3 linked regions of the Homo sapiens genome follow. The protein of the gene in region 3 interacts with the protein of the main gene of each other region in a biochemical or structural test. Each region holds a gene or a part of one and is shown on either strand. Other genes may lie near its edges. The genes, in order: POFUT3, FBXO8 and POLI.

Region 1 (3,656 bases), on a different chromosome or scaffold from region 3:
GTGAACATGACTAGAAAACTAGTGAGCCAATTGCACATACGTTAGTCACATTTTTATGGATATACCATAGGTTAATTGATTTTCATTCCTCTATAGACTCCAGTTCCAACTCTTGTTACAGTAGGCATTGCGATGGAGTTGGGGAGAGCTAAATAACTCAGTTTTTTTCTGAGCCACATCCAATACCTTTTAGAAATTGTTCAATATTGACACTTATGTTCTAGGCCATGATATCCCCAGTGAAGTAGTTTAGGTTGGTCATGGTTCTTTTTTTGTTTTGTTTTGTTTTGTTTTTGAGACAGAGTCTCACTCTGTCGCCCAGGAGGGAATGCAGTGGTGCAATCTTGGGTCACTGAAACCTCTGCCTCCCAGGTTCAAGCGATTCTCCTTCTCAGCATTGAGTAGCTGGGATTATAGGCATGCACCACCATGCCCAGCTAATTTTTGAATTTTTAGTAGAAACGGGGTTTCACCATGTTGGCCAGGCTGGTCTTGAACTCCTGACCTCAGGTGATCCACCCACCTCAGCCCCACAACGTGCTGGGATTACAGGTGTGAGCCACCATGCCTGGCCAGGTTGGTCATGGTTCTAATTTCAGTATTCTTCAGCACTTACCGTCTGAAGCTCTAGGCTTAGGAGAGATGCTTGCAGGGCAAAATGACGTGTTTTTATTTATTTTATTTATTTTTACTTTTTGAGACAGAGTCTCGCTCTGTCACCCAGGCTGAAGTATCGTGATGTGATCTTGGCTCACTGCAACCTCTGCGTCCCCAGTTCATGCAATTCTTCTGCCTCAGCCTCCCGAGTAGCTGGGATTACTACTACCATGTGCCACCATGCCTGGCTAATTTTTGTATTTTTAGTAGAGATGGGGTTTCACCATGTTGGCCAGGCTGGTCTCGAACTCCTGACCTCAAGTAATCTGCCTGCCTCGGCCTCCCAAAGTGCTGGGATTATAGGTGTGAGCCATTGTGCCATGCCAAAATGACCTATTTTCAATCTTCTCCAGAGAAGTTTAGTTTGAAAGCATCTGACAATCTTACAGAAAACCTATATTAGCGTGATTGCACACATGCGCACGCATGTGTGGTTGTGTTTTGTGTGGATGTATCTCAGGGAAGTTACCAGGAAATGCTTTTATAGATAGCAAACATGGGAAATATTTCTGGAAGGCTAGGTCCCTTTAACTTTCCTCTCTATTAATAAGCATCTCCCACTATTAAAGGCAGCTGCACCCCTGCAGACTAAACATAATTCAGATGAATGCAGGAGAGCATTCATCTGAATGCACCTGAGGCAGGCTTTGTGTCTTTCTGCTTCCCAGCTCTGCATCTGGTATCTTTGCTGAGGTGCACCCATGCTGAGCTAGGTTAAGAATCTTCCATGTGCCACCTAGCAGGTAGCAGCAGACAGTGACTGGTGTTTGGGTCACTCACTCAAATCCCCTGTGCCTGATCCCCCCAGTTAATTCTGGACCCACTTTTGTTTTAATCATATCCTCTTTAATCTCTCATCTCACACCTTGAATCCCTGCTTCTGATTCCTGTGGACTGGACTCTAGTACTTTCTCTCCCAGGCAAATGGCCTTGATTCTCTGTATGCCTTAGGTGGCAACTTTGTGTTCTAACTCAATTATATAGGTTCTGGTTCCTATCATTGGCCTCTCAGCCAGCTTAGACCCTTTTTGAGCAGCAGCTGTTGTACTTCAATGCAGTCATTTGCCTTTCTTCTCACATTCTCTTTCATATCCTCATGTTTCTCTATCTTAATGATTATTAACCTTTGCCAGCCATCCAACTTTATATGCCATTAGATTTCAGGTATATGGGTGAGTGTTCTTTTTTAAGCCTAAGGTCAAATATAGCAAATGCCAATAAACAAGGACAAGCCCATTTTTACGTTAGTACGTCATTGCCAAAGATTGAGAATAAAAGCCTGCTATCAAAACAGAGGCACTTTCTTCAGCAATTTCTCTGTGCTTAGTATATGTCCTGTGACATAACCTTATCTGATCTTTGTTTAAAAGCCTTTCTTGATTAATTGATTTCTCATTGATGTAGTGTTGGCACTGAAGAGTTTATCTTTATTTGTGGGAGTGTACACTGGCATTAAATAATTAATTTTTATGAGCTCTGCCAGAAAATGTTGATAAAGTTTTATTTTGGCATAAATATATATTCGGTATTTTCTTTTCCAGTGGGTATTGGAAGATGAATTTTTTCCCGTTTCCTTATATTTATTTTAAAAAAACTCAAGGGTCTACAAAATTATCCATGTCAAGAATACTTCAGAAATTGTATATTACCTATTGTGTTATTGTCTTAGTTCTTCTTTCTCAGTTATTGAAATAAGTTCTCCCTGATTGGATCTCCACCCATGCAGCCAGGAAACAATCGCTTACCACATCCATCACTTCTGTCTGCACATCATCATGTTTCAGAGGTTTTTCAATTAATCCCGTGGATGCTAGGGTCACTCATAATTGTAATCCTGTTAGGCCTTCTTTATTTCTCCATGAGCTTGTTAATTCCTGTCCATCCTGCAGTGGTCTGTAACATAGTGCTATTATCAGCTCTTTCGTCTTTAAAAGCCTCTTGTCTACCATTTTGACTAAGATTGATTAACTGCACTTTGCTGAAATCAATCATTTTGGATTAAAAAAATCTATCTTCTACATTTCTTCTGGCTACTTTTGCATGGTTTCACTTTTTTTTTTTTTTTTTTTTGCAGTTAATCAACCTGCTGACCTGGTTGCTTTCCTTTTTTGGCTTCCTTTCTCTTGCTCTTTTCTTTTTAAAGAACTGTCTTTATCTCTTTATTTCTCCTATTTACTTGTAGGTAACACTTTTCAGGAAGAAAAGCCCATTGCAAGAGGCAGTGGAATAAATTCTCCTTTAGAACCTGGCCAGACACGACTCCTGTTTCCTTTTTCGTAAAATGAGAAATGATAGTCCCCCTCTTTGGTGATCCTCTCCCTCAGTAGTTTCTGGGGTGAAAGCTTTGTGACTGACTGCCAGGCACTTTGCAGTGACACTGTAACATGCTTCATGTGTGTGTGTGTGTGTGTGTATGACACACACACACACATATATTTTGAGACAGAGTCTTGCTCTGTCACCCAGGCTGGAGTGCAGTGGCTCAATCTTCACCTCCCGGGTTCAAGTGATTCTCCTGCCTCAGCTTCCCAGGTAGCTGGGATTACAGGCAATGTGCCACCATGCCCAGCTAATTTTTGTATTTTTAGCAGAGACAGGGTTTCACCATGTTGGCCAGGCTGGTCTCGAACTCCTGACCTCAAGTGATCCACCTGCCTTGGCCTCCCAAAGTGCTGGGATTACAGGCGTGAGCCACCGTGCCCGGCCACATGCTTCTTATTCATAGCCTCAGACTCCTCTGTATTCTAATCTTACCAGGTAGACCCAAACTTAGCAACATCTTTTGGAAATACTAATTAATATCTCATTTTCTTCTCCTAGGTACTGACTTTAACATAGATAGCTTACCTCTGCCTCGGAAAGCCCATCATGACTGGGCTGTTTTTCATGAAGAGTCCCCGAAAAACAATTATAAGCTCTTTCATAAACCAGTGATCACCTTGTTCAACTACACTGCCACGTTCAGCAGGCATTCCCACTTGCCACTAACTACCCAATAC
Region 2 (3,656 bases), on a different chromosome or scaffold from region 3:
TCAGCAAAACAGTAACGTCTATGTCTATACAGATGGAACAATAAGGTGATGTGGCAAAATATTAAAAATTTGTAAACCTGGCTAAAAAGTATTCAAGGGTTATTTTTATTCCTCTAACAATTTTTTTGTAACTACAAATCTCCTAGTTGTGGAATCCAGGCATGTAAATTTGAAAAAGATGTGTGTTTGAGTTTATGTACTCAGTTTAAGAATTATTATTATTATTATTACCTTAGGGCTCAGTGTAATACAGACTGAAGACCATTACTAAAGAAATAGTGGTCCAGAGAGGTTAAGCAAATTTGCCTGAGAAGTCAAAGCTGGAAAAATGGAAGATTTAGGATTCAAACTCAGTTCTATCTGAGTCCAAAGCTTTTATTCTTAACCCACAAACCATATTCCCAGAACCGCTGGAGCCCATGGATGACAAAAGCAATTTACCATCTGTTTCTTCACCACTGGTTCTCATCTCTTTTTACCCCGTCACTGTTTATTACCTCCATCGTTGGTCCCAGCTGCAGCTGCTCTTTCAGGCTACTGCTGTTCTTGTGGAAAGCACACAGGCTTTGATGTGAAGAAAGATCAGCATCAAACCCCAACACGGAATCTGATTAGCCTGTGATTTCTGATCCTCATTCTTCTCATTAGTAAAATAACGGATAATAATTCTTATTCCATGGGACTTAGTAGGGATAACATTTATGGAACTTAACCCATAGTAGGTAGTTTACAATAAAAGGTAGTTTCGTACTCATCCCTCTCGCCCTCTTTAAATGATAACTATTATTTTGGTTCCTTCATTTCAAATACACCTGATAACTGTGGATTAATTACCTGAGTAGTCATAATCCTGGTCCTGAATTTCATTAATTTGGGATCTGTGAAATTTGGAGAGATGCCATTTACATAGCAAGGCCATAGTTCCAACACGCACTAGTTTCAGTTAACATGGTAAAATGCAAAATGATGACTGTAAGTACTAAAATAAGGAACTGACTCCACACAATAGGTTACATGAATAAACCCAGTATCAAACACAGTGCCTTGGCATATAAAGTGCTCAGAAAATATTTGTTGAATGAATAAACGATTAGTAAGCACTGATTTTAAAAAAAATGAATTACATGAACCTTGACCTAAACCTTACACCTTTTACAAAAATTAACTCAAAATGGACCATAGACTTAAACGTAAAACATAAAACTATAAAAATTTTAGAAAAATACATAGAAGGAAATCTTTGGGGTCTAAGGCTAGGCCAAGAATTCCCAGACTTATATCAAAAGGATGATCATGAAAGTAAAAATTGATCGAATTCATCAAAATAAAAAATTTTTGCTCTTTGAAAGTCTATATTTGGAAGATGAAAGGAAAGCCTACAGATTGAGAGAAAATATTTGTAAACCACATATCTGACGGACGAGTATCTAGAATATATAAACAACTCTCAAAACAATAGTAAACAAAAACCAAACAATCCAATATAAAAATGGGCAAAAGATATAAACACACGTTTCATGAAAGAGGATATACAAATGGCAAATAAGCACATGGTAAGATGGTCAACATCATTAGCCAGGAGAGAGGTGCGTACGGTTATAAAAGCACAGTGTGAGAGATCCCTGTGGTGTTACAACTATTTACTATCTTGACTATGGTGCTGGATATGTGAACTTGCACAGAACTTCATACACACACATATGTACACTGAGTAAAAATAAAACTAGGGGAATATGAGTAAGATGGGGGATTGTATCAATGTCAAAATCCTGGTTTTGATAGTATATTATAGTTACAAAACTATTACCAATCAGAGAAACTAGGTAAAGTGTACAAGGGATGACTCTATATTTCTTGAGACTGCATGTACATCTACAATTATCTTAAAAAATCATAGAAGGATGGAAAAAAACAAAAAAAGTTTAAAAAAGGATAGGCAACTGCACATTTAAAGTGAATGAATTTTATTGTATGTAAATGATACCTTAATAAAGATGTTTTATAAAAAGGAATTAGAAACTCTAATGAATGCTTTAAAGAGGGTGAGCAAAGACATGGGAAGTCTACCATCATTTCACAAATAGTAACTATTTTAGATTTTGGGAATCCAACTAATTGTGAAAAATCTACAACCTATGAATCATCTCTCACTTCAGGTAAATTTGAATACATATGGATCAAAAGAAGATGGAATTAAGGAATACAAATCCTTATAGACACAAATCCTAAATGATGTTTTGACCACTTACATAGGATATATAAACAACAGAGTAAGGTACAAATGCAAAAAGGATCGATATTTGTGTAACTCTTAGTCTAATAAAAAAGACAATGTACATATAAAATACATTAATTAGAAAATTGGTATAATTACTTATTTAAAAACAAAGTAATAAGCTATATGAATTAATTTGGATTGCTACAAATATTATATTTCTAATATCTGTAGAAAAATGCTTCTACTTATTAAAATACATTAAAATTGGTAAATTTTATTTAGAATCTCCTATATTCTTATATGCCCTTGTTTCCATTAAAATAACAATAGCAATATTAACAGTAATACTTTTATTACATATTGACCAAATATTTATTTGACAGAGCCAACTTGTTTTTTCTGAGTTGGAGTCTTGCTCTGTTGCCCAGGCTGGAGTGCAGTGGAACAATCTCGGCTCACTGCAACCTCTGCCTCCTGGGTTCAAGCGATTCTCCTGCCTCAGTCTCCCGAGTAGCTGGGACTACAGGCGCGCACCGCCATGCCTGGCTAATTTTTGTATTTTTAGTAGAGACGGAGTTTCACTATATTGGCCAGGCTGGTCTTGAACTCCTGACTATGTGATCCGCCTGCCTCGGCCTCCCAGAGTGCTAGGATTACAGGCATGAGCCACTGTGACTGCCTGACAGAGCCAATTTTTAAAAAAAATTTAAATATATTTAGATTTTGTTTTGTTTTGTTTTTTTGAGAGGGAGTCTCGCTCTGTCAACAGACTGGAGTGCAGTGGCGTGTAGATCTTTGGTTTTTAAAAATTAATTTGTCCACTTTCAGTTTTATTATGCTAATTTCAGCATAAATAAATAAAACTGAAATCTCTAAAGTGGGCTATATACTATAATCTCTGTTTTACAGTAATGTAGAAGTTTTTTGACACTACTACTGTGGAGGATGAATTTAAAGGTGGAGCTCCAATTACGCTGTAACTTGCTGTGTGACCTTAGGTATTTCAAACAAGGTTCTGATCTTTTGTTTCCTATAAAATGGGGGAAATCATTCCTATCTATTTTACAGGGTGGCTATGAGCCTTAACTAAGAGAATGTATATAAAAGCATCTTTTAATTGGTAAAGCAGTATGTAGTTTCTGAAACAGCTATATTGTTCTGACATAATTTTGGATGTATTTTTTTTAAAGTAGCAGTTTTAGTCTAACCAAGTCTGTTACAACAGCATAAAAGCGCTTCCACTTAAAAGCAGTACAAACTATGGATTAACTACAAATAATTACACATTTATTAAAATTTATAAGAACAATAATAGTTTTCTATACTTTTTAACTTCTAGAAGATCGTTACATTTCTAAGAGATGGTATTTTTGACTACTATGTTTTGTTTCCTATTCAAAATAGTAGACTATTTCTTAAAAAGACTAAAATACAAGTT
Region 3 (3,656 bases):
TTGAAGTAGGCGCGTAGCCAGTTAGTCCTTTACTGTATTTATCTCTGATCTGTTTATAACCTTATTATTTATTTCATATTTTGATGCTACTGCATATATACCTTTCTTCAAGGTATTTTTTTTTTCTGTAATTACAGACTCCTCTTTTGGGCCCTATATAATTATATGTTTAATAAATGTATCTTGCTTATGAAGTTGATACCAAGAAAGAGGTTAACTTCAGGAATGGAGGCTGGGCATGGTGGCTTATGCCTGTAATCCCAACACTTTGGGAGGCTGTGGTGGGGTATCATTTGAGGTCAGTCTGGGCAATATAACATAGCAAGACCCTGTCTCTACAAAAGTTAAAAAAAAAAAAAGTTAGCTGGTAGCATGTGCCTGCAGTCCCAGAGGCCGAGGTAGGAGGATTGCTTGGGCCCAGGAGGTCAAGGCTGTACTGAGCTGTGGTGTGCTACTCCACTCCAGCCTGGGCAACAGTGAGACCCTGTCTCATTAAAACTACAGCAACAACAAAAACCTTCAGGGACGGGATAATTAGGGATTTGTCCTGTGACCTAAAATCAGTCAATATTTAGTGATCCACCAGCTTCGTGCATGATTCTGTATTTAACTTGCTTTTCTATTTAGTGCTTAAAGCCTTATCCTTTATTTTTCTTATGTAGTATTCTTTTGATAAACTCTTGTTTTCTACATGTTACTTTGCATATCAGGTATATACTTTTGAAAATAAATTGCCGAAATTGATGAAGGAAATGCAAAACAATCATTTTCTTTGATTAGACATATTGTCAGTCTGTCCTGAAAGGAGGTAATAGTTTTCTCTAGGTAATAGTTTTCTCAGGAGTGATTTTTGGTGTTTGCCATGTCACATTGTTACCTTTATTGGTTTCCCCTCACATTGTCAATGTTGACATCAACAAAACAAAAAAGCACCTTTGGTGTTTGTGAAAAAACATGATCTATGTGGAATGAGATAGTCCTTTTATTTCTGAGCTTCAGATTATATGACCTTAAGAATCTATGCATTTTTGTATACTAAGAGACTTGCATTTGTTTTCTCTTATCCAGCTGGTGTCAGTAGAAAGTGATTCAGAGGGAAGTGAAAAACTTTCTCAATGATTTTAAAGTTATTAGTCTCAATGTTAATATATGAAAATTGATAGTTTTTTTGAATTTATTTTGAATTTTGGTTCAGCTTAATCTAGTAAACATTTGACTTGAGGACTAGATATTGTGCTAGACGCTGGGCATTTGAATACCTGTAAGTTGTGGTTCATCTCTGCCTCTCTGTCCTAAGGAATATTCTTGGGAATGGCTAATAAAAATACCACGTTATAGTATATTTTGAAAGTTGACTGACTTTCTGTTTTATTCAGTAATAATTGGACATTTTAAATATTATTTTGTTTTGCCTCTTTTAAACTCTTGGAGAAAATATAGCTAAAATATACTATTACTTGTTTTTAACTTTCCTGAGCAGCCTATAGTTTATTCTTTGACACATTTCTTCAAGGTCACCAATTTACTATAAGCATTGATATTTAATGTACTACAGATATAAAAATTATAGGTGTAGAAGATTGAGCTAGATATATTGCCATGAATAACTGCCCTAGGAATGTCATTTTTAGACTTTTTTGAAAATATTGCCTTTATACAAGATGTGGTACAGAAAAAACGTCAATTAACTGAGGGCTTTATTAAAGATATTATGGAACTATGAATGTATATAAAACCTTTAACAATAAATTTGATAAATTTTTAAGCACTAGATAGTTAAATTTATCCTAGTTATAACTTCATTTACATTTGTGCTCCAATATTATTTCAATTTAGAATTACTGGAAGAATTTAGTCCAGTTGTTGAGAGACTTGGATTTGATGAAAATTTTGTGGATCTAACAGAAATGGTTGAGAAGAGACTACAGCAGCTGCAAAGTGATGAACTTTCTGCGGTGACTGTGTCGGGTCATGTATACAATAATCAGTGTGAGTGGGTTCTTATTCATTCTACCTACTAACCAAAAGTACATACATTTCTTAATGTTCAGTGAGTTCGCTGTGTGATTCTGAAAGATTCATGACTTTTGTTGGAGGTATAGTTATATTTAGTCAGTAATCTGTCTAGGACAGCTAAAATTAGGTGCTGCTATTCCATAATAAGTGTTAAGATTTTGATGACATGTAGCTCAATGCTCTGTGCACTTTTCATTTGCACAGAGCATTGTTCCTGTTCATCTGCACAGAGCATTCATCTGTGCAGAGTTTTCGTCTGACACAGTGCATTGGTTCCCATTTTAGAAAGCCATACCCAGCTGGGCACAGTGGAGCGCCCCTGTAGTCCCAGCTGTTTGGGAGACTGAGCTGAGAAGATTGCTTGAACCCAGGAGTTTGAGTCCAGCCTAGGCAACAGAGCAAGATCCCATCTCTTAAGGAAACAAAAAGCCATACCTCTGTAGGTCATTCTTAAGTTGTAAGAGTTGGCTTCTTAATATGCTTTTTGGAATAATTTTTTATTATTCTAAAACAATCTCTAAGCAGAGTTTTCAGGTAGGCTAGATTTGCCTTTGATGTGTCTTTTACATGTTCCCTTCGATTCCCCTTTGATGTGTGTTTTACATGTTCACTTCGATTCCCCTGAGACCCTCATGTTGCTCTCTGAATTCCCAAGTTAGCACTTTTGGAATGTTGTCCAGGGCTATCTGCCATGTGCTAGAATCTTCTCCAAGCTCCTATTTAATCTGTTCAAATAATCTTTGTCAAAGTTAGCAAGAAAGCAGAATGGTTTGTCTCCTTCATATATTGAGATATGAATGACTGATGGTGTTTCCAGTGATATTTACATTTGAAAATAAGCTGCAGTAAGCACCAGTGAATATCTGATTAGGCTTTCAGACATCTTATGACTCTGCTGGTGACTCCCCTATCATACCACATACAAGACAAGGTACTCTGCTGTTGTGTAAGACTTGTCTGACCCTTTTGCTCTTAAGCCTCCCCATGCATTTCCTCTTATCCTCTTTTTTGAGAACTAGACATCGGTCTACAGAATAGTTCTCCACAGAAGAAAAGCAGTAGAACCACAGTTTCTAGAATACATGGAGCTTTTCCTGTATCTTTTGTACTTGTGCTCATTTGTAACTTAAAAGGGCTAACTAGCAAGAATATTTCAAATATATTTCTGTATAATTTTTAAGGCAAACTTGGATTTTATTGGTTAGAGTACATTATAGAGAGCTAGGTTTTATATCCCAAAAAGGGAAATGTGGAATTATTGATTAATTCTTCCTCTTTCATACAGATTTTATTAAAATTTTTTGTAAACCTACAGAAAAGTTGACAGAATAGTACAAAAAATACCCATTATGTCTTTTCTTTTTTTTTTTTTTTTTTTGAGACAGAGTCTCACTCTGTCGCCCAGGCCGGAGTGCAGTGATGTGATCTCGGCTCACTGCAACCTCCACCTCCTGGGTTCAAGCAATTCTCCTGCTTCAGCCTCCCGACTAGCTGGGACTACAGGCATGTGCCACTACACCCGGCTAATTTTTTTATTTTTAGTAGAGACGGGGTTTCACCATGTTGGCCAGGCTGGTCTTGAACTCCTAATCTCAGATGATCCGCTTGCCTTGGCCTCCCAAAGTGCTGGGATTATAGGC

Evidence for each region.
Region 1: the proteins of POLI (region 3) and POFUT3 form a complex in vitro, tested with the Homo sapiens proteins (one large-scale study listed by BioGRID).
Region 2: the proteins of POLI (region 3) and FBXO8 form a complex in vitro, tested with the Homo sapiens proteins (one large-scale study listed by BioGRID).

The regions. Positions count from the first base shown.
Region 1 is NC_000008.11:33,389,620-33,393,275, reverse strand, and holds part of POFUT3 (GDP-fucose protein O-fucosyltransferase 3), read left to right. Parts: intron 1-3,477; coding exon 3,478-3,656. UniProt on the Homo sapiens protein: Protein O-fucosyltransferase that specifically catalyzes O-fucosylation of serine or threonine residues in EMI domains of target proteins, such as MMRN1, MMRN2 and EMID1. Attaches fucose through an O-glycosidic linkage.
Region 2 is NC_000004.12:174,273,637-174,277,292, forward strand, and holds part of FBXO8 (F-box only protein 8), read right to left. Parts: intron 1-3,656. UniProt on the Homo sapiens protein: May promote guanine-nucleotide exchange on an ARF. Promotes the activation of ARF through replacement of GDP with GTP.
Region 3 is NC_000018.10:54,275,867-54,279,522, forward strand, and holds part of POLI (DNA polymerase iota isoform a (long)), read left to right. Parts: intron 1-1,836; coding exon 1,837-1,989; intron 1,990-3,656. UniProt on the Homo sapiens protein: Error-prone DNA polymerase specifically involved in DNA repair. Plays an important role in translesion synthesis, where the normal high-fidelity DNA polymerases cannot proceed and DNA synthesis stalls. Favors Hoogsteen base-pairing in the active site.